Regions from separate parts of the Homo sapiens genome. Here region 2 is linked to region 1. The links come from fine-mapping of genetic effects on gene expression. Tissue or cell type: nucleus accumbens. Region 1 holds a variant in brackets; the other region holds the start of a gene. All regions are shown on one strand. Distances are from middle to middle.

Region 1 (2,685 bases):
TATATTTATATATTTATTTATTTATATATATTTATATATATTTATGTATATTTACTTATTCATTTATATATTTATGTTTATATATTTTTATATATTTATATATTTATATGTTTATATATTTTTATATATTTATATATAGCTATATATATTTATATATTTATAGATATATATATTTATACATTTTTATATATTTATATTTATATATTTATAGTTATATATTTATATATTTATATATAGTTATATATTTATATCTTTACATATATTTATATATTCATATATTTACATATATTTATATATTTATATATATTTATATATATTTTATATATTTTTATATTTATATGTATATATGTATATATTTATTTATATTTATGTATATTTTTATATTTATATATATTTTTATATATATTTATATATTTATATATTATATATTTATATGTATATATGTACATATTCATATATATTATATATATTTATATATTTATATTTTATATATTTATATGTATATATGTACATATTCATATATATTATATATATTTATATATTTATATTTTATATATTTATATATTTTCTATATATTTATATGTTATATATATTTATATATTTATATATTATATATATTTATATATTTTATATATGTATTTATATCTTTTGTATATATATATCTATAAAAGGAAATGTGTGGGTGCAGATGAGGTCAGACTGAAGGCAGCTTCGAAACAGCCCAAGGAGAAAACTTAAATCTGGCCCTGGTGCACTTTAATTGCTCTGTTCATTCAAAATAAAAATGCACATCAATGTTAGCGCTCTCCCGTCTCCCAGGCTGCCGTCCGAGGGCTGGAGGAGGAAGCCCCACTTCCTCGCAGGCCCTGCTAGAGATTGACTCCAGGAAGGCCGCTCTTCCATCCCCCTGGCATGTTTTGCTTCTGGAGGTCCCGCCAGTGGCTAACAGAACCCCTATTCACACCACCTCCAAGGAGTTACAGAGCATTTCACTATTGCATGCACAGGCTCCCATAAATCAGGTTTACAAAGAGTTATTTTCTTAAAGACAGATTCCTTTAAATTCCATTTCCTTCTCTTTCGCCCATGCCCAACCCCCATATCCTTGTGA[T/C]TGAACCAAAGGCTCTGTGGCCAAGCTTTTCTTGGATCGTGTGAATCAAGATCAATAAATATCCATGCTGCAGCATGACTAGCCCGGCGCCTCACTGTGCTCTGGGATAAGGGCCCGGGTTGTGTGCGGCCGTGTGGCCCTGGCATGGGCCTGCCCTGCTGCTATACACGTCTGTGTTGAGTGCGGGCCCCCGGGTCCCCAGCTCCCAGAGAGGAAAGACCCTTCCTGGGGGAAAACTAACCTAGAAGTCACCCTCCTGGGGGTGTTACCTGTCTCAGGGGTTGGGTATCCAGGGTGGATTTTCAGGCCATGTGATCCACAGTTTGATTTCGAGTGGCTCATGAGCTGCTGCAGGCAGATGAGTTCTTCAACACCAGCACTGTTATTGAAAAAGTCAAGAGAAGACTGTGCTCCCTGTCTCCCCTTCCTCGCTCCCTGTCCTCTCTTTAACCCGCTCCAATGAGGTGTTCACTCTTACTGTCCCACCAAAAGTGCTGCCATCTTGTCAAACCCAAGGGTCCTCATCTGACTCAATGCCTCAGCAACGTTTTTTAGTCAATCGCTCCATCCTTTCCAAGCACTCTCATTGTGTTTCCACAGAACCACGGAAGACCACAGGGGTCTGCCTGTCTTCATCTCCCTGGCTGGCTCCTTCTCTCCTTCCTGACTCGTTAATGTGGGGGACCAAGGGCTCAGCCCTCAGATCCCACCCTTCATGCACGTGTGCCACCTAGGCATTTGGGCCTGTGGCTTCGAACACCATCTATGCTACTGCTATCCCTAAATTTATCATTTCAGCCCCAGCCTTTCCACATAGACCCAGTTCAGGTCACCATTCAAATATCCATTTGGAGTCTCAAACTCAGTATGAAGGTCACTCTAGGTGCAGTCCCCACATTGCAACACACACCTACTCAAAATATACTCCTCTCTATGCACATACTTTGCTTTCTTTTCTTCCCACAAACTGAAGTTGATTTTTTAAAATTTATTTACTTGTTCCTTGTCAGTCTTCTCTGCTAGATCATGAGCTCTACAAGGAAACAGGATTATATTTAATTTTGCCTTTGTAGTCCTAAGAACTATCCACTCCACTCAACCACTTGCTGGGTATTTAGTAACTGAATGAATAAAATAACACTGACTTTTGTAATGTGAATGTGATTCTCTTTCTAGTTCTCTTTAGATTCCCAAAGGCATGTCTGTAACACTGCTCTAACACATGATAATTTCACTGTTTAACAAAGAGAGAACAGTTTCAATCTGAGAAACTTGGCAAAACAGTGTCCTGCTAGAATTTAATAAACTTGCTTTATTTTCATTGTATTTTAAAATATAGTTCCCTTCTACTTATGGCAAGTATTAATAGTTTCCTATTTATACTTGTGGTATAAAGTTTCCTTTTAAATTCTATTTATGTAGGCAGTATGAGTGGATCAATTTAAAGAAAATATTAAGTAAATTATAAATGGCTGGACATTGGCACTGGATGGCTGAGGGTAGGGAAACACTGCATGGATCTTCAAGTGTCTGGGAGTGAAGGACCAGATATCTTGAGCCAGACAGGTTTTGGA
Region 2 (2,685 bases), 630 kb before region 1:
TGGCCAGGCTGGTCTCGAACTCCTGACCTTAGGTGATCCACCTGCCTCGGCCTCCCAAAGTGCTGGGATTACAGGCATGAGCCACAGCGCCTGGCCCAAGTCCCCTCTAGTTAAGTGGCAAGCATTTGGATGATGACTTATGTGTCCGGCAAAACCAAAACAGGAAAAGCAAACCTATATGATCAGGCAGGAAAACTGGTTCTATGTTAAAATATGGACCTTACCTCTCAAGGACCAGGCAGGAATGCACACAGCACAAACCCCCATTGCACAGTGGGGATACAGCACCCTCCAGGAGGTGGTTTAATCCACCCCAGAGTGAACGGGGCCTGATAGGAACACTCAGGGCCAACTCTGGGCAAAGCAGCAGGCAGCATTCCTAAAGGGAGGGTTTGGAGGAGACAAAACCTGCCCTTCACAATGAACGTGCCTTAAGGGCTACATGCCCCGGGTCACAAGCTGTGCCAGGAAAGGGTTCTGGGGTAACTGTGGGGTCAGTGGCCCCATGGATGAGGCTCTGCTCACCAGGAAGAGGCCTAGGCGCCCAACAGCCCCTGAGCTTCCTCCCCTGGGGAGGATTTGCCCACAATCCCTGGGGGGCACCTAGGTGGAGAGGGTGCCCCGGCCTAGAAGCAGCCTAGGCGGCCGGTGTGTCCCTATCTGCACGCTCACAAGCACTCATGCCCCAGCCTGGGACACACAGGCCCGTATGCAGTAACAGCGTCTACCCAGCTGCACTCTGCACGCCAAGCACAGGCCGCCCCTGCTGCGGGGCCAAAGGCCTGAAAGCACCGCACCACGCAGCCTCGCCCAGAATAGCTCCCCTCCCGCCCCTCCTGCACAAAGCCCACCCGGACTTAGGGAGAAGGGGGCTCAATACGGGCCCGAAACGAGGCTACAGACCTTCTCAGGAGCAAAGGCAGCGACTGCAGGCAAATGGGGCTGTGGGCCGGGGTAATGATGCGGGACAGGAGAAGCCAAAGGGCAGCAAGGCTGGGGGCGGGGTAGGCGGCGCAGTAGGCTGAGGGAGGGGAAAAGGAAGAAGGGGAGAGGGAGGAGCGATGGCAGCAGGGGTGGAGGCCGAAGGAGACAGGGTCCCGGACAGACTTGTGAAAATGGGAGGATGGGCAGAGGAGACGTAGAAGAGGGGACAGGACAGGACAATGAGAGGCGGAGCGCGGGGAGTGCGATGCGGCCACCGGGGGCTCTGGGCGCTGGGCAGGGGCCAGGATGCCGGGGGTCTGAGCGCAGGCAGCGGGAAGGAGTGGGTTCTGAGGCTCAGCAAGGGGGAGGTGCCGCCCACCACGCCCCCCGCCCCAACGGGAGCGCGCGGAGCCAGCCTCTCACCCTCTCGCCCGCCGGGGCCGCGCAGGCGGGGGAAGCGCTGCTCCTGCGGCCGCCACAGGTGCCAGGTGCCGCGGCCCAAGATGGAGCCAGAGCCGACCTGGCCTGGGCGCGAGACGCCGCCCGCCGCCGTCGGCCCGGCCCGCGGAGCAAGCGCCGGGTACAGGGAGGGGCCAGCGGGGCAGCTGGCACCGGGGCGGCGGGAGGGGCGGCGGGCGGAGACCTCGCTCACCTGGGCCCGTGCCACTCTGGAGCCTGCCACCGCCCCGCCGCGGCCCGGGATCTGCGTCCGCGCGCCCCCACCCCTCCTTCCCGACCCCTCCTCAGGCCGGGTCCCCACTGTCCTCGGTCTTTTCGGCCCCGCCCGCACCACGACCGCCTGTTCTCCAGGCTGCCCAGCGAACCCCCAAGACTCCCACTTCCCCGACGCAACCCCACCGTCCCGGGTGTATAGGCGCAGCTCCCCACGATTCTCCGGCCCCAGACCCAGCCCCTCAAGTCCACCTCCTCGTAGCCCCACCCCCTCGCTCCAGTGCCCCTCGCTCCAGTTCCCCCTCCGCACCACGCCCCGCATTGAGGTCTCCGCGCCGGCGGCTACCCCTTTCCTCTCGCCTTCTCCATCCTAGCTCCGCCTCTCACAATTCTCTGGCTCCAGATCCCGCCCACGAGACCCCGTTTCCTATAGGGCCCTTTCGTCTGGGATACCAGGCCTGGTCTCCACTAGCCTCGGACTTTCCAGCCCCAGGTCCCAAATCCTGGACCCACCGTCCCATCCTCTGAGCTCCACTCTCATGGACCCCAAACCTCACTCCAGTCCTTTGAACTCCATGATCCTGGCCTGGCCTGGCCCCCGGAGCCCTCCATTGCCCCTCAAGAGCCCAGCCTGGTAGACTCCTTCCCTAGGGTTGCATCTCCAGCCCCGCCCCTGAAGACTGGTAATCTACCACCCCTTTCCCTGCCCACGTGCCCCTACCCAGCCCGACTTGAGGCCTTCAGTCTCCCAGCCGCGGACCCCAACAGCGGGCGAGGGCAGTGACCGTGCGGGGATGAGCCACCTCCACTGGAGCCCGCCTTCTTCTCCGCAATTCCCCGCAGCACCACAGCGCCTTCCCGGTCCCGTGACGCCGGGGGCCAGCCCAGGCCCTGGGATCGCCAGGTTCCACACTATGAGGCTGAGGACCTGGGCCTACGGTTCCCTCAATATCCCCCAGTTTCCACAACCGCTGGCCAGCTTCAGGGCGCAGGACAGGCAGCCCCGGCCTCCCGCCACTCGCAATAGATTCCTGCTGTCCACCCAGGGCCACGTGGTATGAGGCACCTGTACTATCTCTGGGCCCCAGT

Which allele goes with the higher level. Alleles are on the strand shown, and positions count from the first base shown. SD is a standard deviation of normalised expression in the study named.
For the expression in nucleus accumbens of the gene that starts at base 1,508 in region 2, T is the high allele of the variant in region 1 and C is the other (large effect, 0.87 SD a copy in GTEx).

What was found. PIP is the estimated chance that this variant, and not a neighbour inherited with it, causes the effect.
Region 2: GPRIN2 starts here. The variant in region 1 is fine-mapped to the expression of GPRIN2 in nucleus accumbens (GTEx, PIP 0.94).

What each region holds. Positions count from the first base shown.
Region 1 is chr10:47,180,359-47,183,043 of GRCh38, forward strand. No RefSeq gene overlaps it. Among named protein-coding and RNA genes, the nearest start is that of GDF10, 120 kb to the right of the region's middle. The variant T/C (reference allele first, on the strand shown) is at 1,112.
Region 2 is chr10:46,555,151-46,557,835 of GRCh38, forward strand. GPRIN2 (G protein regulated inducer of neurite outgrowth 2) reads right to left here and starts at 1,508. Exons shown (of 3, transcript NM_001385282.1): 1 at 1,348-1,508. RefSeq lists enhancers at 839-1,544, 2,250-2,685.